7 linked regions of the Homo sapiens genome follow. The protein of the gene in region 4 interacts with the protein of the main gene of each other region in a pairwise test. Each region holds a gene or a part of one and is shown on either strand. Other genes may lie near its edges.

Evidence for each region.
Region 1: the proteins of CEP70 (region 4) and DNTTIP2 interact in binary tests that used the Homo sapiens proteins (3 or more experiments, as listed by UniProt).
Region 2: the proteins of CEP70 (region 4) and PIMREG interact in binary tests that used the Homo sapiens proteins (3 or more experiments, as listed by UniProt).
Region 3: the proteins of CEP70 (region 4) and EIF3D interact in binary tests that used the Homo sapiens proteins (3 or more experiments, as listed by UniProt).
Region 5: the proteins of CEP70 (region 4) and ZNF227 interact in binary tests that used the Homo sapiens proteins (3 or more experiments, as listed by UniProt).
Region 6: the proteins of CEP70 (region 4) and CFAP53 interact in binary tests that used the Homo sapiens proteins (3 or more experiments, as listed by UniProt).
Region 7: the proteins of CEP70 (region 4) and ZCCHC10 interact in binary tests that used the Homo sapiens proteins (3 or more experiments, as listed by UniProt).

Annotation. Positions count from the first base shown.
Region 1 is NC_000001.11:93,872,707-93,876,206, reverse strand, and holds part of DNTTIP2 (deoxynucleotidyltransferase terminal-interacting protein 2), read left to right. Parts: intron 1-423; coding exon 424-562; intron 563-2,992; coding exon 2,993-3,088; intron 3,089-3,500. UniProt on the Homo sapiens protein: Regulates the transcriptional activity of DNTT and ESR1. May function as a chromatin remodeling protein. Part of the small subunit (SSU) processome, first precursor of the small eukaryotic ribosomal subunit.
Region 2 is NC_000017.11:6,443,163-6,447,254, forward strand, and holds the start of PIMREG (protein PIMREG), read left to right. Parts: upstream 1-1,292; 5' UTR 1,293-1,326; intron 1,327-1,913; 5' UTR 1,914-1,948; coding exon 1,949-2,242; intron 2,243-2,248; exon of another isoform or gene 2,249-2,869; coding exon of another isoform or gene 2,870-3,025; intron 3,026-4,092. UniProt on the Homo sapiens protein: During mitosis, may play a role in the control of metaphase-to-anaphase transition.
Region 3 is NC_000022.11:36,522,667-36,526,166, reverse strand, and holds part of EIF3D (eukaryotic translation initiation factor 3 subunit D), read left to right. Parts: intron 1-35; 5' UTR 36-45; coding exon 46-168; intron 169-457; coding exon 458-503; intron 504-1,434; coding exon 1,435-1,571; intron 1,572-2,186; coding exon 2,187-2,272; intron 2,273-2,885; coding exon 2,886-2,958; intron 2,959-3,500. UniProt on the Homo sapiens protein: mRNA cap-binding component of the eukaryotic translation initiation factor 3 (eIF-3) complex, a complex required for several steps in the initiation of protein synthesis of a specialized repertoire of mRNAs.
Region 4 is NC_000003.12:138,587,761-138,591,260, reverse strand, and holds part of CEP70 (centrosomal protein of 70 kDa), read left to right. Parts: intron 1-3,500.
Region 5 is NC_000019.10:44,215,532-44,219,031, forward strand, and holds part of ZNF227 (zinc finger protein 227), read left to right. Parts: intron 1-2,259; 5' UTR 2,260-2,261; coding exon 2,262-2,321; intron 2,322-3,500. UniProt on the Homo sapiens protein: May be involved in transcriptional regulation.
Region 6 is NC_000018.10:50,231,996-50,235,495, reverse strand, and holds part of CFAP53 (cilia- and flagella-associated protein 53), read left to right. Parts: intron 1-3,500. UniProt on the Homo sapiens protein: Microtubule inner protein (MIP) part of the dynein-decorated doublet microtubules (DMTs) in cilia axoneme, which is required for motile cilia beating.
Region 7 is NC_000005.10:132,999,518-133,002,549, reverse strand, and holds part of ZCCHC10 (zinc finger CCHC domain-containing protein 10), read left to right. Parts: intron 1-2,130; exon of another isoform or gene 2,131-2,154; intron 2,155-2,348; coding exon of another isoform or gene 2,349-2,376; coding exon 2,377-2,418; intron 2,419-3,032.

The sequences.
Region 1 (3,500 bases), on a different chromosome or scaffold from region 4:
ATAAAAATATGAAATGTTAGCCTGGGGAATGAGAAAATCACTGCCTTGGGTTCTTCATGGAATGGCTCATTCATTTGACATTATGGAGCCAGGTGTTGGGTGTGCACCTGTAGTCCCAGCCACCCAGGGAGGTTGAGGTAGGAGGATCACTTGAGTCCCAAGAGTTCAAGGCTGCAGTGGTCACTACTGCACTCCATCCTGGGCCAACAGTGAGACCCTGTCTCAAAAAATAAAATAAAATGATGAAAAATATATTTATTTAGAGTTTTTTTTCAGGAATTCCTCATAAAAATAAGATGCTTTTTTTTCTTTATTGTGGACAATACAAGGGAAGAGAAGAATAAGTGATTTTTTAAAATGCCATCTTATATGTTTCCATTTTGATTTAATTACTTGATCTTTAAGTGATGATTTCTTTTTCAGTCTGAAGTTGACAAGCAGCAGCATAGACCCTGGTCTGAGTATCAAGCAGTTGGGTGGTTTGTATATTAATTTTAATGCAGATAAACTACAGTCTAACAAGAGAACCCTAACACAGATCAAGGAGAAAAAGAAAAATGAGGTAAGTTAATTGTGCTGTTAGGTTTTCACAGAACTAACCAATCACTTTTAGAAATTAGTCCTTGGTAAAAGACTTAATTTTCCTACAGTGAAACCACATTGGCCTAATGTGTTAGTTTTTTCCTTCTCTCTAAAACAGTCATTTCTTTTTACAATAAAATCCTATCTATGAATGATAATGCTTTAAAAATAAATCAATACAGGGTCAGTGTTCCTCATCTTACACCCACCAATTATGATCCCAGGGGTTTTGTTTTTTTCCCTTTTCTTGCTATACTTTTAGTTCTTAAGTTCTTAACTAGTGTAGACTGTTGAGAATCTGAAAGCTGTGAATGCCTGCCTGCCTCTTCCACCCGGAAAAAAATGCACATGTGCATATAGACATTTTACATATAATTTCAGAAGGAATTACTGTTAAGGTAACTTTACCCAAACCCTTAGCTTTAGCCAACACCTTGCACTGTTTTCTCCTAAATCTATATTTTCTAGCCTTGATGCTTCTCACTGTCACTTTCAGACCTTTAAATCCAAGTACCTATTTGTTCATTTAGATGTCCTCAGGTACTTGACGTCACTAATTCCCCTTTCCCTGCCTGAACCAGGAATCCTCTTCTTGTATTCTTTTTTCTGGCTAATGAAACCAAACTCTCTTTTCCTTTTGTAGTCAGTCACCAAGCCTCTAGGGGAAGATATTTCTCTGCTTCCTCCTTTTCAAGCGACTGTCACCAGCTAGTGCAGGCCTTTGCTTCTCATCTGGACTACTCCAGTGGCTTCCTTATTGATCTTGTTTTCATCTTGTTCTTCAAGCCATCCTCCACACTTCTAGATTTCTCTGTCTAAAAACACAAATCCGGCTGGGCAAGGTAGCTCACATCTATAATCCCAGCACTTTGGGAGGCTGAGGCAGGAGAATTGTTTAAGCCCAGGAGTTTGAGACCAACCTGGGCAACATAGCTAGACCACATCTCTCCTCCCTGCCCCAAAAAACACACCACACACACAGATGTGACAGTATTCTCTTGAATCCTTCAAAGTACCTCTCTACCCCACCCAGCTGTCATCTGCTCTATTCTTGCCACTGAAGACTACTGTAGTTGCCTGAACTTACCCTGCTTTTCCCCAAGCAAGTGCAAAATAATTGATCGTTGCCCTTGGGGAATATTTTACCTCCAGTCCTTCTCACAACCCCTCTGTTTCCATAACATCTAGCATAGATCTGATTCATTGTTGATCATGTGATATATTAACTTACCATCTTTTCTTTATATTCCTAAAACAGGGTTTTTCAGTCTCAGCACTACTGATGTTTTGGGCTGCATAATTTTGTTGTGAGATGTTCCGTGCATAGTAGGATGTTTAACAGCATCCCTATCTTTTGCCCACTAGATGTCAGTAGCATTCTTCCTTATCCTCACCACCACCAAAAATGTCTCCAGACATTGCCAGATGCTCCCAGTTGAGAACCACTGTCCTTGAATGTACTACAGTACTTGACTCACAGCAAACTCTTAATCATTTGTTAAGTAAATATCATGCCCCCTTTTATGAGTGATAGGAAAGCCTAGACGGCTACCTATACCACACAGAAACATCTAGGCCTGAACCTGAATTGTGTGCCTGACTGTTAATTTCTGAGTTGATCATTTCAAATGTCAGTCCCAAATTAATGCTTGTACTATATTCCTGTAAACTATTTTGAGGGCTACAGAGCAGTCTTACTTGGTTCTTGTACTGAGAAAAATACTAATTAACCTGAGGTTCCTTTAGTCACACAGAGTTTTAGGAGAATATAATCATCCTAGTCAAGTAACAAAAGTACAGAAATCATTTAGGAAAAGATAAACAGATTTGACTGCACAAATTTATTTATTTATTTTGGAGAAATGGCGTTTTCTTATGTTACCCAGGCTAGTCTTGAACTCCTGGCCTCAAGTGATTGTCCTGCCTTGGCCTCCTAAAGAGTTGGGATTATAGGCATGAGCCATCGTGCCTGGCCTTTTTTTTCTTTTTTCTTTTTTTTTTTGGGAGGGAGCTGGGTTTGGGGGGAGACAGGGTCTCACTCTGTCACCCAGGCTGGAGTGAGTGGCACAGTCATAGCTTGCTGCAGCCTCAAGCTCCTGGCCTCAAGTGATCCTTCTGCCTTAGCGTCCTGAGTAGCTGGGACTACAGGTGTGTGCCACCATGCCCAACTAATTTCTTTTCTTTTTTTTTTTTTTTTTACAGTCAGGGTCTTGCTATGTTGACCAAGGTGGTCTAAAACTCCTGGCCTCAAGTGATCCTCCTCCCTTGGCCTCCTCAAAGCACTAGGATTATAGGTGTGAGCCACTTTGCCAGGCTGACTAAAAATTTTAAAACTTACAGAAGTTTAAACTGTTGAAAAACTTATATAACATTCTGACATTATTTTAAAACCAATTTTATGTTTTTATAGCTTCTGCAGAAAGCCGTCATTACACCTGATTTTGAAAAAAACCACTGTGTTCCACCATATAGTGAATCAAAGTATCAACTTCAGAAAAAACGCAGAGTAAGTACAGTGACTTAATTAAAATGCTTAGATATGTTTGGCTATATATTTTCAGCTTATACAACATAACTGCACAATTAAACTGTATCTGTTGGTCTATATATGAGTCCAAAGAAAATAATTACAGATTTCTAAGGGCTGTAAAATATAGTACCATAAACACATTATGTATAGATTTTCACATCTTTGCAGCCACAATAGTGCATCTATAAGTAGAGGTTTTTTAAAAAAATATATATATATATAGATTACTTCTATCTGCCATTTCGACTAGTTATCCAGAGAGCTTGAAGGAAAGTTGAGGATGGTATTCTAGTAATGTTACTGTAATATGGAGCACCCTGGCACATGGTAGGCACTAACTAAATACTTGTTGTATGAATGAAACAAAATTAAATAACTTGTAGGAGTT
Region 2 (4,092 bases), on a different chromosome or scaffold from region 4:
CAAAAAATTAGCTAGGCGTGGTGGCAGGCACCTGTAATCCCAGCTACTAGGGAGGCTGAGGCAGGAGAATCGCTTGAACCTGGGAGGCGGAGGTTGCAGTGAGCCGAGATCATGCCATTGCACTCCAGCCTGGGCAACAAGAGTGAAATTCCGTCTCAAAAACAAACAAAAAATGCCACCGATATATGAATTTGGGCATTACATTTCCAACATGTGAAATTTGAGGGACACATTCAAACCATAGCAGAGGATCAAGTAAGTTAATAAACTGCAACACCGGTACCTGTGCATACTAAGTGCCATATACACGTTAATCATTATCATCATCCTTTCCTTGGAAATCACTGAGGCCAAAGGAGTGGGTGAGACCACCCAGAAACGGAGAGGGCTGAAGACAGAGTCTCAAGAAGCCATCATCTCAGGCTCTTGTGCGGAGAAGTAACAAAGAAACCAGCCGGGGGAGTGGGCAGCACTGCTCTGAGGTCACCGAAAGGAGAAAGATGAGCTGGAGAGAGCTTTATAATGGCTGCATTTGTTTGGATGCTAAGGAGAAGAGAGGCAGGCATTCCGCTGGAGAGAGGGAGGGATGCGTGGGGCAAGGCGGGGGCGGGGAGCCGGTGTAGACGGGTGGAGGGCAGACCGGTACTCTGGTCTATCCCCGCTTCCGGGACGCGTTTTCTAGGGAGGGCGGAGCGTGGATGGCGAGTATGGGGAACTCAGAGAGGGACAGTGTCTTGTCACAGGAAGGGAGGGTCAGGAGGGAAATTTGAAAGAAAACGTCTCTGGGAACCCAGGGCTCTGCACTGCCAGTCCCTGGCTCCTTCTGACAAAACCACTGAGCAAGAAGGAAAAGCCAGACCCCTTGGCAGGATGAGAGGGGTCTCTGCCCGCTGCCGGGCCTGGGGCCTGGGGCCTGAGCCAGGAGGCCTAGGTCCCAGGACCTCCGCCTCCACCCCATGGGTCAGAGCAGCCTGAACCCTGTGCGCGCTCCAGGGAGGGGACCCGGTGTGCGATGCGCGGGGGCTGGGCTAGCAAGGGCAGTGGCGCGAGCGGGACGCAGGATACAAAGCCCGGAGCCACGAGGCTGGCGGCGGGGCGGGGGCCGGAGCGATGAATGGGCACGGCCGGGCCAATCCAAGCGCAGCATTTGCAGCCGCGAGAGAGGGAGCCAATCGGATCCCCGGGGCGGTGGCGGTGGCGGGGGCGGGGACGGAACCAATCAGCTGTGAGGACGGGGCCGGGGGCGGAGCCGCGCAGAGTTTCAAATCGGCTGCGGTGGGCGAGGAGCAGCTGTGCTGCGGCTGTGCTCGGCCTTAGTGGTGTCGGGTGAGTGCGGGCTGGGCACAAGTTTCGCCCTTGTTGCCCAGGCTGGAGTGCAATGGCGCGATCTGGACTCAAAACAATTTTTTTGTTCGGAGGGGAGGGCATCAGGTTCTGTTCACAGGGGAGGGCATCAGGTTCGGACACGCACGGCCTGTGGGGTCGTCTGGGTACCACAAGAAGTCGGATCGAAATCGGGGCGTCTGGTGGGAAGGCCGGGGTCTGGGCGGGTGCGCGTTTGGTCTGGGCGAGCTGGTGAAGAAGATGGTGATCGTGTCCTGGGCCCAGCGCTGAAGCTCGGCTACGGCGTGTCTTGACCCTGCCTCCCCTCCTCGCCTGAGCCAGAGAGAGGAAGGAGGTTGGGATGAAAAGACAGCTGTTTTGGAAACTTGAAGGGCGGGACATCAGAAATGCTGCTGACCCGAGGCCCCTCTTCCAGGAAGCATCCTCCTTCCTGCACCCACACTTACCAACTCGCCCGCCCCCGCCACCCCGCTGCATCCCGTCTCTTCCCCTGTGTCCAGGGTCTCTGTGGGGCCTGGGAATGGGTATGGGGAATGCCTTGCTGATCTGCCTTTCGCCCTCCTCCCCAGGGTCTAGTGGACAGAGAAGACTCTTGGCCAGGCAGATGGCTTCTCGGTGGCAGAACATGGGGACCTCCGTGCGCCGGAGATCTCTCCAGCACCAGGAGCAGCTGGAGGACAGCAAGGAGCTGCAGCCTGTGGTCAGCCATCAGGAGACCTCTGTAGGGGCCCTGGGGTCCCTGTGCAGACAGTTCCAAAGGAGGCTGCCCCTGAGAGCCGTCAACCTCAACCTCCGCGCAGGGCCCTCCTGGAAACGCCTGGAAACCCCAGAGCCAGGTCAGCAGGGCCTCCAGGCTGCAGCTCGCTCAGCTAAGAGTGCTTTGGGTGCCGTGTCCCAGGTAATACTGACAACACTAATCATCTTTTTTATGGAGTGTTTCCTTGGTGCCAGGCAGTTCCTGCCCTCAAAGAGCCTCAAGAATATAGACTTCATGAAAACAGGGACGTTGGTTAGTTCACTGCTGTTTCCCCACCACCCCAGATAGTTCCTGGCACATATAGGTGCTCAACAAATAGTTGAATGAGTGAATGAAAGCATGTCTTGGAGGAAACAGATGCTCACAATACCAGGTGATAAGAGCTGTACGTGATAGGAAATTGCAAAGCAAGTGACCAATAGTGAGGCTCACCAAATGCAAGCTTAGTCGGTGAAGGCTTCCCAGAGGAGGTGATTCCAGAGTTCACCCAGGGAAGCAAAGGTCAAGGGGTATTTAGGGTAGGGGAAATAGTGCAAGTCCAGGCCTAGAGCTGAGGGAAAGCAAGGTGTACTGCCCACTCAGCTGTGTATCCCTGAGGAGAGCCAGAATTGTAGTCTGGGTATGAACAGATGACAGAGAGCAAGGTAGAGCAGGGGGAAAGGATATGAAGGAGCTTAGAACTCTCCCAGGAATGATCAGGAGTCCGGAAGATTCTAAACAGTGGAAAGTCTGGTCTAATTAGCATATTAGAATTTGCCCTTTAGCTACATGATGGAGAAGGGAATAGAGGCAGAGATGCTCCTGATGGAGACTAAGGGTTTGGACTTGCAGGGGATAAACTTCAGGAGCTGCCGAGAAGGTCCAGTTAGAGGGGATTTGCTGTCAAATGAGAGCTGCTGTCAGGAAGACGTCCTTATATTGGATGTAAGTGTCTGTGGACCCTTCAAGGGATGCATCTTTAAACCCAGAGCTGGAGGTGTAGACGTGTCACTTAGAAAGGACAGAAGCCATTAGGATGAACAGACCTCCAGGGAGAGGATTGGGGGCTGCAGAGGCTTCTCCTCGGTGTCTCATTGGGAATTCTGAAGATGAAAGAATTCTCCAGAAAGTGGGTGGCTCTTTCTGGACCCTCTGCAGAGAGCTCTCTGAGCCAAATGTTAGTCCTTATTTGGAAGCACTTTTTGATTGTTTTCACCACCCTCAGGGATCAGAGAAATGAAATGAATTTGTCCAAGGTCACATAACTCATCAAATTTAACTTGGGCTTCGCTCCAAACACTGGGCTCTGGCTTGTCAAGGCAAAGACAGTCTAGCTGATGAAGAAGAGCCTTCACGGCTGTCACCCGGCTGGTGTGAAAGGCCCAAGAGTTGGGGCTTGGTCCTATGGGCAACAAGAAGCCACAGAAGAGTTTTGAGCAGTTGAGTGTCACGGTCAGAACTGCCCTTTAGAAGGATCACTATGGACCACTGTGGAGGGTGGATAGAGTGAGTGAGACCCGAGGCAAGAAGACAGGTGCTCTCTTGGTGTACAGGGGGTGCTGGGCGGGGTGGCCTGTTCTTTTGGGGCCCTCTCCTTCAGTCCTGGGGTCACCGTCTGTCTGGAAAGAGAGTTTGGACTTAGACAAACAGGCTCCAGGCACCAGGGGGGTCCTCCTGCGGCTGACTGCTGCTGTCATATCCAAGAGCTCTGAGCTGGGTCCCAGCCGTGGACTCATTCCATGAGGAGTCATTCACATCCTTCACCCTGGAGACTAACAATAGCCTGTATTTACAGGACACTTGCTGAGTGTAGGGGTTGCTTGTATGGTCTGGAGACCAAGGTAGCTCACCCTTGGTTTTTTTTTTTGTTGTTGTTTGTTTGTTTTCGAGACAGGGTCTCACTCTGTCGCCCAGGCTGGAGTGCCATGGTGCGATCTCGGCTCACTGCAACCTCCGCCTCCCGGGTTCAAGCGACTCTCATGCCTCAGCCACCCAAGTAGCTGGGATTACAG
Region 3 (3,500 bases), on a different chromosome or scaffold from region 4:
TTCATGCCGCTACTCACATGATTTATATTTTTCAGATTTTGGAAGATGGCAAAGTTCATGACACCCGTGATCCAGGACAACCCCTCAGGCTGGGGTCCCTGTGCGGTTCCCGAGCAGTTTCGGGATATGCCCTACCAGCCGTTCAGCAAAGGAGATCGGCTAGGAAAGGTACATGCCTGTCAGCAGGAGTCTGAATCTTTGCAGCTGTGGCTGCTACTCTCGAGTCCCTGTTTAGATTTTATTGTCTCAAAATCTTAACTCCTGAATTTCTTATAGGGATGCCAGCTGAGAAAGGTTATCTCTGGGTGTAGTCATAGAAGAGCTGGGCACTTACAGAGGTGTTGTGAACAAATTCTGAGACTCTTCCACGCTGTCCTCTCGCGCTCAGGGATTTCTGGTTCTGCAGAAACTTGCCTGGTTGACCTGTGCATTCTCTGTCTTTTCTTGTTCTTCGTAGGTTGCAGACTGGACAGGAGCCACATACCAAGATAAGAGGTACACAAGTAAGTGTTTCTGCAACTGAATGCCCCAATCAGGGCCTTGGGAAAGTTGTTCTTTATTCTAATGACCTTCTTCTGAAAGCTTTTTAGAATGGGAAGAAACTGCCAACAATAATTCATAACTTTTAGGGATGTATTCTGGGCTTTAACAATAACCACATTTTTGGAAATAGCCCTCAAAACTTAGACCATTCATTAAAGAGGTCTAGCCTATTAAAATGGGGTTTTGGGCCCTTTTAAAAACCTGTTGAAAACATTAGCTGGGCGTGGTGGCGTGCACCTGTAATCCCAGCTACTCGGGTGGCTGAGGCAGGACAATCACTTGAACCCAGAAGTTAGAGGTTGCAGTGAGCAGAGATCATGCTATTGTACTCCAGCCTGGTGACAGAGCCAGATCCTGTCTCCAAAAAAAAAAAAAAAAAAAAAAGTAAAACCCCTGGTTTTAAGATCCTGGTACCATAAAAAGGCTTTTTCTCTCTGCCACTTCAGATAGTTGGAGGTGGCTGCCTGGAGAACTAAGTTAGGATAGCTGAGGCTGAGATTGGCAAGAAAGTATATCGTGATCTATTAGACATACCTGCCATGGGCCCCTGATAATGGAGATGGTGGTTAGCAATAAATACCTCAGATTCTCACACAATAACGCAGAGAGTGAAATGGGTTAGTTTGAGTCCTTCAGATTCTTGGCTTAGAAAGTTCTTTAGGCCAGAGTTGTTCAAAATTGAATGTGCATATGAATCATCCGGGGATCTTGTTAAAATGCTGGTTCTGATTCAGTGGGTATGGGGTGGGACTGTGAGTCTGTGTGTCTAACAAGCTTTCAGCCAATGCTACAGGTCTCAAGACCACACTTGAAATAGCAAGGCTTTAGACTGGTGCATATCTGGTAAAGTCTGTGGGTGCAGTTACTACATGCCATCACCTTTGCCTCCAGATAAGTACTCCTCTCAGTTTGGTGGTGGAAGTCAATATGCTTATTTCCATGAGGAGGATGAAAGTAGCTTCCAGCTGGTGGATACAGCGCGCACACAGAAGACGGCCTACCAGCGGAATCGAATGAGATTTGCCCAGGTAGGCCAAGAGCCAGCAACCACACCATCTTGGGGCTGTTACTGTTGGCCATCACCTGCTAAAAAATGCTACCTTGTGACTCCTAATGAGAGAGGGAAGCATATTATAGGTCTTTTCGTGAATCTCGGGTCACCGTTCCATAACAAGTGGTACCAAGGTGAACTTGCACTAGGATCAGGGATGCATTTAAATAGTTTATATTTCTGTTTGCCAGTAGCTAGGACATCAGACTTGTATGCTAAAAACATTTGTGCTGGATAAGAAGGTGCACCTGTGCCTGTTACCACACTTAATTGCTGTGTGCAGACTTTATTAAGTAGATGGTCCAGTCAGATTGCCTATTATTATTTAAAGAGGCAAACTCAGAAAATCTAATGAGACCCAGTAAACATACTTCAATGAAAAATATATCATGGGAGTATAGGTCTAAGCAAAGTCCAAGCACTTACCCCCTAACACCCCCAAGCTGTTGATGCCGTAGAGTGAAAGCACAGAGTAAGATGTGAAACTTGGGATTTGGCATCCTAAATTTACTCCAAAGACCTCCCACTTGTTCTGCCTATTGTGAGCCAAATCTCCAAGATTTTAACATGGATGTTTCTTGCTGATGCCCAGAGGAACCTCCGCAGAGACAAAGATCGTCGGAACATGTTGCAGTTCAACCTGCAGATCCTGCCTAAGAGTGCCAAACAGAAAGAGAGGTGAGATTTTCATCCTGCTGGAACAAGACACCCTTCCCAGACTGGCCGTATTTGGAAACCACAGGACCAAAGCAGGAGGATGGTTGTATTCCCCACCACTGCAAAAAAGGAAAATACTTTCTACAACCAGTTAAGCCCCCTTTTAGCTTGTCGTTCTCAGGCTGGTTCATGGCAGATAGCATGGGCAGGAAACTAACTCCTTGTGCTGGTCATGCGCACTAAAGGGAAACACAGGCAGGCAAGAAGAGGCTCTGGAGCTTACCTGGGCTCAGTTCTGCTGTGGGTCAACTCTAGGAAGCCCCCTGTATGCTGGTCCTTTGAGCCTCCTGGTGTTGTGTGGTCCAGCGGCCACTACACCCCAGATTGGAACTATCAGTGAACAGTCACTATAGATGAAGTAAAATCATCTGGTCAGTATTTGGAGGCAGTGTACCTTTTCTAACACCTCCAGTATGCACCGTCTGGGTCTCTTCCTTTCTCTAAGCCCATTTTTCGTAGTTTAAAGGAGTTAGTGGTGATGGTAAGGTTTAGCTGAAGAGAATGGCAGCGTGTGCCTTTTGAAGAAGCCACTGGTTTAAAGGTCTGCACTGAGATCATATGTCTGTCTTTCCAGAGAACGCATTCGACTGCAGAAAAAGTTCCAGAAACAATTTGGGGTTAGGCAGAAATGGGATCAGAAATCACAGGTAATGTATTTATACCAGAATTCTGCCTTGGAATTTGGTTCTGTTTATTTGGTTGTCTTTATTAATAGCTTAGATGAGATATACTTCACATACCGTACAATTTAGTGGTTTTTAATATATTTGAAGAGTTCTGTAACTGGTCAATTTCAGACCATTTTCATCACCCTCAAAAGAATCCCTTACCCTTTAGCAGTCACCCTGTCTTGATCTGTTTTCCGTTGCTAGAACAGAATACCTGAGAGTGGGTAAGTTATAAAGCGGTTTCTTTAGCTCATGGTTCTGGGGACTGGGAAGTCCCAGATCAGGAGCCACATCTGGTGAGGGCCTCATGCTGCTTGATAGCATGGCAGAAAAAGCAGAAGCGGGAGCAGGGTGCAACAGAGAAAAGGGCTAAACTTTGGGTAGTTAGCCCATTCCTGAGAGAAGGGCATGAGGCATTTATTCCTTTTAACGACCTAATCTCTTAAAGGCCCTACCTCCCGACACTGCCGCAGTAGCAACCAGATTGCCAAATGAATTCCAGGAGGCACACCCAAACACCA
Region 4 (3,500 bases):
TAATTTTATACATTTTTAATAGTTTTATGCATGAAATGAAGTTGTGACTGTGACCTGTCACATAAGGTCAGGTGTGGAATTTTCTACTTGTGGTGTCAAGTTGGTGCTCAAAAAGTTTTGGATTTTGGAGCATTTTGGATTTCAAATATTCATATTAGGAACGTTCAACCCGTACCAGCTTTATTTTGGTTAGGTTAGCATTTCCTTTACTTTTCTATTTTTTGTTATTTAACAAAATCTTTTTAGCGTAAAATGAAATTTTTGTTATAAATCACATACCAAATGTATAGCTTAATAAATTATTACAGGACCATACCATTCAGGTATGCCAGATCCCCTCCATTACCCTATCCCAGTCAAAACTCCTGTGTTCCCATTTAGTCACCATTCTTCTGGGTTTTATAGTTTTGTAGTAATCACTTCCCTGTTTTTTTTTTATTATTTATTTATGAGATAGAGTCTCATTCTGTTGTCCAGGCTGGAGTGCAGTGGCACGATCTCAGCTGTCTGCAACCTCTGTCTCCTGGGTTCAAGTGATTCTCCTGCCTCAGCCTCCTAAGTAGCTGGGATTATAGGCACACACCACCAGGATCGGCTATTTTTTTTTTTTTTTTAGTATTTTTAGTAGAAACGGGGTATCACCATGTTGGCCAAGCTGCACTGTGAGCCTGGCCTCCTAGTTTTTGATAGCTTCCTTGTTATATAATATATTGAACAATTCCTATCGCAGATATGAAATCAGCCATTTCTTTAAAATGCCCGGGTTTCATTTAGAGGGAAATAATATTTCAGTTACAGTCTGAATGCTAAAGATCCTGAGTTAGTCACTGTTTCAGGCATTTCAGTAGACAGAGCTAGGATACCTGTATCTGTCTATAGACACACATGTTAAAAGATACCTAATGTATTCTACTTCCAGTCTTCAGATTGAGATTACAGAGCTTTTACTTAACAACTTCTCTATCACAACTGTAACTCCTTTTTTCCATACTGAGAATCATGATTCTCAAGAATATAGGAGAAAATAGAATATTCCATATTTACTCATTATTCTGTATTATACATATGACAGTATCAGAACTATATTTCTGAAATCACCATCAATATGATTACTGAAAACATTAAACCTTTTTTTTTTGGCTTATGTTCTTCTCATTTTTTCTTCTCTCTCTGTTTTAACAGTTATGCTCTATCTGCATTGTCAGAGTATATAGCCATTTCATGTTCTGCTTTTTCCCTCTTAGCCTATTAGTTCTATTAATATATTTAATGTTTACCACCAGTGTTTATGCTGAGGTCTCTCTAGGCATTTTGGCTACCTGAAGCTAATACATTGTTAGATTCCTCGGGAAGTAATATTGTCTGAGTTCTTATATATTGATCAAAGTTTATTCTTTTTATACTTCAAAGTCAATTTTGCAGATATAAAGTCTTTGGCTCACACTTCTTTTCCGTGAATTTCTTAAATACATTACTCCTTTTTCTTCTGGAATAAAGTATTGGTATCAAAGTCAGATTATTATCTAATTTTTCTTCTTCTTATAAGTCATGTGGGTTTTTTTCTTGTAGATAACCAAATAATTTGTTTTCTTTTTTTCTTTTTGAGATACAGTCTTACTCTGTCACCCTGGCTGTAGTGCAGTGGTATGATCTTGGCTCACTGCAGCCTCCACCTCCTGGGTTCAAGCAGTCCTCCCACCTCAGCCTCCTGAGTAGCTAGGACTACAGGTGTATGCTGCCACACCCAGCTAATTTTTTTTTTTTTTTTTCTTGAGAGACAGGGTTTTGCCAAGTTGCCCAGGCTGGTCATGAACCCAGGCTCAAGTGATCCACCTGCCTCAGGCTTCCAAAGTGCTGAGATTACAGGCATGAGCCACTACGCCCAGCCAAATTTTTTCTTTTTCATTAAAGTCTGCTAATAATATTAGAATATATCACTGTGTTGGTTGTTTTGGGTCAGTATTCTCAGGTACTTCATATTTTCTTTCCATTTGTAGTTTCAAATCTTTTTTTAAATTTCAGGAAAACTTTATTTTTAAAACAGCTTTATTGATATATTTAATATACAATAAGCTGCACATATGTAGTATAAGTTTTGACTTACATATACACCTATGAAACCACCCCAATCAGGATTGTCAATATATCCATCATCCCCCCAAATTCCCTTGTTCTCGTTAGTAGTCTCTGTGTCTAGCCTCCAATTCTCTCAGCAACCACTGATCTGCTTTCTATCACCACAGTTGGTTTTCATTTTCTAGAGTTTTATATAAATGGAATGTTATAGTATGTACTATTTTATGGCTGGCTTTCAGCGTAATTATTTTGACATTTATCCATGTTGCACATATTCTTTTTTATTGCTGAGGGGTATTCCATCCAATGGGTATACCACAGTTTGTGTGTCTGTTCACCTGCTGCTGGACATTTGAGTTGTTTCCAGTTTCTGGCTATTATAGATAAAGCTCTTACGAACATTTGTGTACAGTCTTTGTGTGGACATAATGCTTTCATTTCTCTTGGGTAAATTCTAGGAATGGCATGACTGGGTCTTATGGTAAGTGCTTATTAACCTTTTAAGAAATAGCCAAAGTGATTTACAAAGTGGTTGTACTAGTTTAAATTCCCGTCGGCAGTATATGAGAGTTCTAGTTCCCTCACATCCTCGAAAACACTTGGTCTAGTCATTCTTAGCCATTCTAATATGTGTAGTGGTGTCACATCGTGTGTTTTAATTTGCATTTCCCTCCTGACTAACAATGTTTAGCATCTTTTTGTGTGCCTAGCTGCCATCTGTATGTCTTCTTTTGTGAAATGTCTATTGAAATTTTTTGACCATTTTTAAGTTCAGTTGTTTACTTCTTGTTGATGTTAACTTCCTTACTAAGTTTTGAGAGTTCCCTATATATTCTGGATATGAACCTTTTCTGATTCCTGACTATTTTCTCTGAGTATGTGGTTTCTCTTTTCATTCTCAGAATGTTATATTTTAAAGAGCAGACATTATTTTTATGAAGCCCCATTTGTTCTTGAATTGTATCATGCTTTTGGTGTCATATCATAGACATGTTTGCCTAACTCAAGGCCATACAGTTTTTCTGTGTTTTTCTAGACATGTTGTGATTTTAAGTTTTAGATTTATGTCATTCATTTTAATTTTTTTGTATATGGTGTGAGATATGGCTGAAAGTCCTGTTTCTTTCTCTTTTTTTTGTACATGGGCATCCCATTGTTCTAGCATCATTTATTGAAAAAAAAAAACTATCGTTTTTCCTGCTAAATTACCTTCGTATCTTTGGTGAAAATTAGTTGTCCATATATGTATGAGTCTGTTTCTGGAATCTATTTAGTTTCATTAATCTGTTTGTCTATCTTGATATCAATGCTATATTGTCTTGATTACTATAGCTTTATAAACCTTGAAATGATATAGTATTAGTCCTTCAACTTTGTTCTTCTTTTTCATTCATTCATTTATTAATTTAGAGATAGGGTCTTGC
Region 5 (3,500 bases), on a different chromosome or scaffold from region 4:
TTTTTGTTCAGTTTATTCCCTTTTATTTGTGCTCAACTGGTCTGGAGTTTATATGGTTTTGTGTCATTCTTCTAACTTTAAAAATATTCTCTTTCTTAGCAAATACTAAACTTAATCAGCATGTGTTCTTATTCTGAAGAATATTGAGACTAAAAAAAATCTGAAAGAAGATGGGGCCAGGTGCGGTGGCTCATGCCTGTAATCCCAGCACTTGGGGAGGCCTAGGCGGGTGGATCACCTGAAGTCAGGAGTTTGAGACCAGCCTGGCCAGCATGATGAAACCCCGTCTGTACTAAAAACACAAAAATTAGCCAGACGTGGTGGTGCGTACCTGTAATCCCAGCTACTCAGGAGGCTGAGGTGGGAGAATCGCTTGAACCTGGGAGGCAGAGGTTGCAGTGAGCTGAGATTGTGCCATTGCACTCCAGCCTGGGTGACAAGAGCGAAACTCTCTCTCTAAAAAAAAAAAAAAAAAAAAAGATGTACCTTTAAAAAAAAAAAAAAAAAAGCTATGTTTTTATAGGTCTACTTTTTATTATAACCACCCTCAAAATTTGTCATTATAGTTCTTTGGCTTTTTTTAAACAAAGATTATTATATTACCAATATAGTCACAAATGTTTTCTTACCATTGCTTTTTGCAGTCCATCTTTTAGGGTTCACATGGTTATAAATTCTCTTCATTTTTTTTTTCAGCTAAAATATTGTTTCTTTCTCATGTAAATAATCATCTAGTTGAACATAGAATTCAGGTTGACAGTTTCTTTATTTTGGAGGTAATATTCATTTGTTTTAAATCTCCATTCTGTTACCCTATTTCTGTCAATCTAATTGTTATTTCTTTTAGGTCAACTATATTTTCTTTCTAGGAGCTTTAAGGTTGTTGTTTCCAGTTCTTTATGTTCGTTTAGTCTTTTGCATTTCTGAGTTTTATTGTGATTTGTTTAGGGTATGTTTATTTTTATTTATACTGTTTAGAATTTCTATATGCGAACTTGTATCTTTTACCAATTGTGTGAAATTCTCAGCAATTGCATCTTGAAATTAAAACCTCTCAGTCATTCCCTCCATCCTGCCTTCTCTTCTCCCATTCCTGTTAGACAAATACGGAAGCCTCTCAATTTATCTTTCATGTTTCTTGATTTTTCGTTTGTGCTTTATCTTTCTCTTTGCTGTGTGTTTTTCTCTGTGCACATAAAATAAAAGAGATGTACCAATGATCGTTTCCAGGCTTCATGAAGTAAATTGACCCAGAATGATACGTTTTAGAAAACTGATAACAGTGTCAGTAAAATATTACTAGCTGGGCAACAAATTACTAAAAAGAAACCTTAAGTCAGATTTCGGCTTTTCAGAAATTAAAGGTGACTTTCATAGGAGAGCAATATTTGCAAGGCAAGTGTGTGATGCAAAGTATCATCTGCTTGTTTTTTTTTTTTTTTTTTTTTTGAGACAGAGTCTCACTGTGTCATCCAGGTTGGAGTTCATTGGCGTGATCTTGGCTCACTATAACCTCCACCTTCCAGGTTCTAGCAATTCTCATGCCTCAGCCTCCCAAGTAGCTGGGATTACAGACCCGCACCACCACGCCTGGCTGATTTTTTTTATTTTTGGTAGAGATGAGGTTTTGCCGTGTTGGCCAGGCTGGTCTCAAACTTCTGACCTTATGTGATCCTCCCTCCTTGGCCTCCTAAAGTGCTGGGATTACAAGCATGAGCCACTGTGCCAGGCCTGGCTAAACAGCAAGAAGCCATGAAGAAGCTTTTTTGTAACTATAAGAGAAAGGGACTCCTGGTTCTTAGAACTCTCCATCTACTTATTTAATCCTTGGAAAAACCCTATGAGGGAGGTACGATTTATGATTCTTACCATATCCTCATTGTACACATAACAGAAGTGAGGCACAGAGAGGGTTTTTAATATCCCCAAGGTTACACAGCTGGTAAGTATCATTTCTAGGAATTAAACCCAGATACTTGACTTGAGAGCCCTCATATGTTGTTACATTGCCTCTCGTTTCCTGCTGTCTCTGCCATCAGAAATCCTTGTAGCAAGGATGCTGCACTTGTGCAGACTGTTCACTGCCCAATGGCACTGAACTATCATGCCATTTAGTAGCTGGAATACAGTCCATGTTCTGCTTACCAAGCTGTATGTGGCTATACCTGTCTGAATGTAGGGCTATTTCTCTAATTTCCTCATATGTACACATGGGCTAACAGCAGGCTTGTGTCTCATGGCGTCTTTGGTCTCCCCCAGTTATGCCATCTCAGAACTATGACCTTCCCCAGAAGAAGCAGGAGAAAATGACCAAGTTTCAGGTACGTAAAGGATTCCTTGCTGTCTTTTAAAATGTGATTTATTTCTCAAAGATAACAGATTTATTTTTTCTCTTTCTTGGAAAGGTTAGTGGGAAACAGATATTCAGGACATGTGGTATGCTGACATGTATGTGTTTTTTTGTTTTAGTTTATCACCTTTACTATTTTACAAAACAGTGTTTGAAAAAATAATAGAAGCTTTAATCAGAAATAATCTATGCTACTACCCTGCTTATGAACTAGCTTTTTTCATTTTCCCATGTTCCTTTTTCATACACATTTTGCAATACTTGAGTAGATGAAATTTTCAATTGTGCATTCTCCACTTAATTGCATCACCTGCATTGTAAGTGAGTACATCATATGCCATTGAATTGCAGTGCCCTTAAAAGACAACAAAAACTATTTCTTATTTAGCCTTTCAGAAATTCAGAAATTTTAAGAATTTTACTACTTTAAAGTAAATCCAGTGACTTTTTTCCCTACATATAAAAACAATTCCTTCAAAAGAAATTCTGGTGGAATTCAATATTATTTGTCCTTAAAGTTTTAGGAACTCTGCATTGAAGAGGTTTATGTCTCAGTTTCATGTCAGTTCCCTCAGGTGTTTTGTAAACAGAACATCTAAAGAATGACATGGTGTAATTTTATTAGATGCTTTCAGAGAAGAAGAGCTATATATTTTTCCCGTTTATGTTTTTATCACTCATTTATTTCTTGTATGAATTTATTTCATCAAAGTAACTACATGTACGTAAGGTCTAGTAGTACTTAGATGTCTTGCTAGCCCTTTCCATCTGTCATTGCATTTTTCAGATGTGAGGATGGAGATGATTTATTTGCATTTTAAATATGAAGAAACAGGTTATGGGAACATTTTATAACTGCCCCAAATTTCCCAGGTAGCTGACTCATTGGACACTGAAGCTTCCAACTATTAGGAATATCTGGCATTCTATTTTCATGTAAAGGCAGACAGAACAAAAGAGTTTTCCATTCACAGAGATGAGCACATATGATAGAAGTACCTGATGTTACCTTTTTATTCTTTTGAGACAGAGTTTAATTCTTGTCACCCAGGCCGGAGTGCAATGGCATGTTCTTAGCTCACTGCAACCTCTGCCTCCCAGGTTCAAGCGATTCTCCTGCCTCAGCCTCCCAAGTAGCTGGGATTACAGG
Region 6 (3,500 bases), on a different chromosome or scaffold from region 4:
CCCCAGGTTCAAGTGATTCTCCTGCCTCAGCCTCCCAAGTAGCTGGGGTTACAGGCGCATGCCACCACGCCCAGCTAATTTTTGTAATTTTTAGTAGAGACAGGGTTTCACCATATTGGCCAGGCTGGTCTCAAACTCCTGACCTTAGGTGATCCACCTGCCTCAGCCTCCCAAAGTGCTGGGATTACAGGTGTGAGCCACCGCACCCAGCCAATATGAGCTTTATTATAGATGGGAGAAGTAGGGCAACCCATAGCCAAACCCAGCTGGAGAAGCTTTGAAATAGCTGTGCCAGAAAGGAATCTTCAGGAACTCCTTTTTGAGGGCCCTCTAATACTTTGATGTCTTCTTTTATCTTTTCTAAAGTTTTTTGCTACCTGACCTGAGGTATTGATGTAAGAGCAACAAGTTTCATTTAACAGCATGCAGGTGCCTCCTGCCTCAGCGTTAAGCACATCCACAGCACATCAGTTTTGCAAGACAACCCCTGCCAATGAATTTAGGACCTGTTATTGGGCCTTGATGGCCATGACTTTAGCTTCTCAAGATTGCTGGACTAAGATGGTGATATTACAAATGCTGCACTCAAGCATGGGTATACCTGCAAACCAAAAGACTGCATGGGCAACAGAATGTCCTAGACCATTCCTCTCTATAATGAGATCATCAGTGGTGAGGATGCCAAATGATGGAAGGTTGATTAAATCCCGTTTCTGTTTCCTTTCTTCTGATGGCCTTTGAAGGGCCCAACTTAGGAAGGATCACAAATTTGGAACTTGGCCAGAGGTTATAAAGTCTAAGGAGTTATATATATGTACTCCAGGTATTGCTGCAACTATAGTGCACGTCCTCTCCATTTAATAGGCAAGGCTGGAAAAATGTTGGATCCACACAAAAAGAAGAGCCCAGTTCCTTTTAAAGAAACTCCTGAGGAGGGACCTTGTAACCAGGCATAGGTGTGGTTAGTTTGGATTCCAGTATAATTTGCATAAATAGAGGGATCCCATGGTCCCCAGGGATCAAATGTGGCTGGGTGGTGACCTAGAAAGTAGTCATTCATGCATAAGGGAGGAAAGTTTTACTTGTGTTATATGAATGTGGGGCCTGGCAGATAAGAGTTTTAAACATTAATGAGATAACGGAAAATCAAGAGAAAGTTGTAGATGTATTAGTGAGGTTGAGAAGTTGTCCAATCTCAACCCCTATTCCTATATATTCTATCCCAGTAGCTGAACTGTTTATAGGCATAAAAGGATCACTATAAATTTTGCTGGCATTAACTTTGTTGTTTCCCCACCATAGAGAAAACCTGCAGAGGTACACAGTGAACTTGTCATTGTTGTCATATAGCTTCCATTCCTGGTGTGTTTGATTATAGTTGAGGGTGTAATTACAATGGGCTTATGTTAAACACCCTAGGAAAGGGCCAGACCCTTTGGAGTTTCTGATGCAGAGGTGAGCCTTACAAGTGCCTATAAAAGGGCCAGATCCCTCGGATTTTCTGATGCAGAGGTGAACCTTACAGGCCATCTCTGGTGCCTTCCCAATCTGCTCCGTCACAGTGGATGATTGCCATGAGGAATCAATTGGCCTAGGCTCCCCTCCTAAACCTGTGTTTTTGGTGTGTGTGTAAATGGTGTAGTTGAATCCAGAGTATCAGGCTTGTTAGTAATTTCTTCTATGGATAGCGGGACTGCTAGGATATAATGTTATCTTTGAGTGCCTGTCCGCATGGGCATATCCAGAAGTTAGTGCTGTGTGTTATGTTAGCAACCTGAAATATTACTGGGAGGAGTAAGTGCCTGGCTCCAGCCATGGAGGCAATAGCCGTGATAGAATAAAAACAAAGCCATTTTTAAGGAAAATGACAATATGTAGTAAACTCAGGGAGACAGGCGAGAAGAAGGGCTGTAAAGAATATGAGAAAAACAGTTAACCAAACACCTAGTACCTTAGCACACTGATGTGGTGTGGGGGTAAATGACATTACTAGGACAAATATACAAAAAAATTCATCTGGGTGGTAATCTTGGAAGTCCGCTTGCAAATAGCAGTCGTAAACTACCTCCCTTATAAAAGCATCAATATTAAGAGGGTGACGCTGCTTAAGTGAGGCAGTTGGATAATTACTGAAAGCCTGTAGTAGAATTGGATAAAAAGAGTCAGCCTTAAGAGTAAGGTCTAAAGGAGGTGTTGGATTTATTTATTTATTTTTTATTTTTAAGGGAGGTTTAAAAATTCTGGGTTGTTTGAACAAAACCTCTTTTACCTTTTTTTCTTTAACTTTAAATGAGTTTTCGATGTTTGCATTCTAATTAGACCACAAAGAATGAGTTTTATCTCAGCACCAGGACCTTAGTAACAGCAGATTTAAAGCAGGCAGAAAAAAAGGAAGATAGAGAGCTATAGAAGACTTCACTTAACTTTATAGTGCAGGTTAACCATTTGAGCTCTGACTTTTTCTTGTTGTAGTTTGCCCGTTAGTTTAAAATGTACCATAATATGTAACCAGCTGGAGTTTTAAAGAGAATGACAAAATCAGGGGTTAGGATGTTAGAAACTGTCTTTCCCTTTTAAGGCTGGACCCCTGGATTGAACAGAAAAAGAGAAAAAGAAAAGGAAGGAATGGAGAGGAAAAGGTCAGGCTTTACAGGAGGGCTTGTGAGCCTTCCAGCCACTGCACAGTGCAAGGTCAGTACCCCTGCCACTTTTGTTTATCTCCCGCCAGGGAGAGCATTAGCACCCCAGACCTACAAGGTGTGGGATAAATTCTTCCCAACTTTGCAAGTTATCAGTTAAGGTGAGCTGTTTCCAGACAGAGCAGAGAGCCTATTTAGCATAAGGCCATTAGGGGTTGAGATTCTGTCCTGGGGGCCCTTTGATCATCAGGGCAGTCTTTTTTCCAGTGGCTGAGCTTGTGGCAGAGAGAGTAAGCCAGGCAGGGCTTTTAAAATTTATTCCACTGGGGCACTCTGCCTTTCAGTAACCTGGCGTTTTGCACTGATGGCAGTTATCTGAAGGAATGTATTTTTAGGGAAACCTGGAGGGGCTGGGGCTTGTAAAGCAGCCAACAGTTGAGCCTGTCTCTTGCCTCTGCATTTTTCTTTCTTCTTAGCCCTGTCCTCCTTATTCTGCTGTCAGTTGTAAAGGACTCAGGAGGCTAATTTGATGGTTTTCTACATAGGGGCCATGCTGTGTTACACAATAAATTAGACATTTCTTTTTGAGGGTTTGAGAGTTAAATTTGTCTTAATGTTTTAGGATACAACCCAGAAGTGAGTCTGAAGGAATAGATGGGGTTTGTCCCATGGTGGGACTAGAAAACATGCTGCTTGGGGATGGTGCAACTCAGGGGCACAAACTGCACTTTCTCTCAGGATGTCCAGCCGAGATGAAAAGCAGTTCCACTTAGGTCTACTGAGGAACTTGGGGTGCACTTTCTAAAGGGGTGTCCCACCTATTAAGAAAGTCCCCTCGGCCACTCAGGGGCCTTATGCTGG
Region 7 (3,032 bases), on a different chromosome or scaffold from region 4:
AAGACCCCTGTCCTAAAGAATGAAATACGGGTTATGAAAATTTTCATTCTAGTTTAGGCGCACACCTATAATCCTAGCACTTTGGGAAGCTAAGGTGGGAGGATCACTTGAGGACAGGAGTTTGAGACCAGCCTGGGCAACATAGCAAGTCTCACCTCTACAAAAAATAAATACATAAATAAAATTTTATTTTGACATTTACTTTTGTTTTTCTAATTGTATCTCACAAGTATTTTGGTCTAAAAATATATATAATTACATGAATCTGGCTCTGTTAAAAAAGATTGCTGGCCAGGAACCTTGGCTCACACCTGCAATCCCAGCATTTTGGGAGGCTGAGGCGGGTGGATCACAAGATCAGGAGATCGAGACCATCCTGGCTAACATGGTGAAACCCTGTCTCTACTAAAAATACAAAAAAATTAGCCAGACATAGTGGCGGGCACCTGTAGTCCCAGCTACTCGGGAGGCTGAGGCAGGAAATGGCATGAACCCGGGAGGTGGAGCTTGCAGTGAGCCGAGATCCAGCACTGCACTCCTGCCTGGGCGACAGAGGGAGACTCCATCTCAAAAAAAAAAAAAAAAAAAAAAAAAAAGATTGCTGAATTTTGATTCAGTTATAATTTAATAAGTATACTTCACCCTCTTATTTTATGCCCAAAATGACAATTCAGTAAGTAATTCCATTGTGTAAAAAACTTTACATAAATACATGTTTATGTTTGGAGACTCAGGAAACAATGATGGAAGCATTATCTAGGAAATATAGAGAAGGCCAGGATATAAAAACATTGGCCATGTGTGGTGGCTCACACTTGTAATCCCAACACTTTGGGAAGCTGAGGTGAGCAGATTGCTTGAGCTTAGGAGTTCAGGACCAGGCTGGGCAACATGGTCAAACCCCGTCTCTACAAAAAATACAAAAGTTAGGCATGGTGGTGCGTGTTGTAGTCCCAGCTACTCCAGAGGTTGAGGTGGGAGGATTGCTTGAGGCTGGGAGGCAGAGGTTGCGGTAAGCCAAGATCATGCCACTGCACTCCAGCCTGGGTAACAGTGAGACCCTATCTCAAAAAGAAAAAAAAAAGTTAAATTTACAGGACAGTGGTGATAGAATTAATTGTTTTTTTCTTGTTGTTGTTGTTGTTGTTGTTTTTATTTTGAGACAGAGTCTTGCTCTGTCGCCCAAACTGGAGTGCAATGGTGCGATCTCAGCTCACTGCAACCTCTGCCTCCCAGGTTCAAGAGATTCTCCTGCCTCAGTCTCCTGGGTAGCTGGGAGTACAGGCATGCACCACCAAGCCTGGCTAATTTTTGTGTTTTTTTTAGTAGAGACAGGGTTTCACCATGTTGGCCAGGCTGGTCTCGAACTCCTGACCTCAAATGATCTGCCTGCCTCGGCCTCCCAAACTGCTGGGATTACAGGTGTGAGCCACCGCACCTGGCCTAATTGTGTAATTTAAAAACCTGATTTAGTATGCATGTTGTTTGACAGAATAATAGCAGCAAGCTATTTGTCCCTTTCATTCAAATTTACCAGACTTTATAACTAATGTGAGTGAGCATAGTTTTGAAGTATTACATTTCTGGTCTTTAAAGAGTAAATAACTCGGCCAGGCAGGGTGGCTCACACCTGTAATCCCCAGGACTTTGGGAGGCCAAGGTGGGCGGATCATGAGGTCAGGAGTTTGAGACCAGCCTGGCCAGTATGATAAAACCCTGTCTCTACTAAAAATGTAAAAATTAGCCGGGCTTGGTGACACACACCTGTAGTCCCAGCTACTCAGGAGGCTGAGGCAGAAGAATTCCTTGAACCCAGGAGGCGGAGGTTGCAGTGAGCCAAGATCGCGCCACTGCACCAGCCTGGACAGCAGAACAAGACTTTGTCTCAAAAAAAAAAAAAAAAAAGTAAATAACGGGACATGCAGAAAAAGAAATAGTTATTTTAAATTAAAGGGCTGCTTTTGAAAAATTATGAAATGGCTATTTGTATGATTCTGAGAACTCAAACTACAAATTAGGGCTATTGTGCTATTAGCTTTGTTCTGTTGTTCAGGAGGTAGTGATACAGCTATATCAGCCTAAGTTCCAGACTAAAAAAATTTAATCATCTTAACTACTAACCTACCTGACTTTTATACACGTGCTAAGATGCATTGTCTTGCTTAAATGCTGGTTAAGTTGACTGCATGTACCGTATACAGCCTACAATGGCAGACTTTCCACTTGCTTATAATAAGAAATACTGTACTCTGTATGTGATAAAAACACAGAATCTTTCTCCAGAGTAAAATGATTTGGGGGATAGTAGAAGGGCTTGTCTGAGCTGTGTATAATCACTCTATTAACAGGAGCTTTTTTCCCCCTCGTGTTTATCAGCATTGGAGAAACCAATGTAGAAAGAAAGGCCAAGAAAAAAAGGTATGTGTGGTTTTAGCAGTGTTTTATAGATAACATGTAATACTAATTGGCGGGATGGGAAAGGTGATTTTAAAACAATAGCTATGCCAGATGCAGTGGCTCATGCCTATAATCCCAGCACTTTGGGAGGCCAAGGTGGGTGGATCACCTGAGGTCAGGAGTTGGAGACCAGCCTGTCCAACATGGTGAAACCGTGTCTCTACTAAAAATAGAAAAATTAGCTGGGTGTGGTGGCACATGCCTGTAATCCCAGCTACTTGAGAGGCTGAGGCAGGAGAATTGCTTGAACCTGGGAGGCAGAGGTTGCCATGAGCCAAGATCATGCCATTACACTCCAGCCTGGGCAACAGAGCGAAACTCTGTCTCAAAAAAAAATAGCTATAAGATTTGGATCTGAAGCCTCTTACTGCAATTTATAATTAAATAATCATCCTATTTTCTGATAAGTTCCTTTTTTTAACCTGTCTGGAAATGCATTGCTTCCATTTCTCCTTTTACTCCAACTTTCTAGAGTCCTTGTACGTGGAAACAATAAATAATTGTCTTCTCTTGGCTTAGAATAGGAAGTGTTAATAGACTGGTAAGAAATTGTTGGCCAGCCATATCTGGTCTGA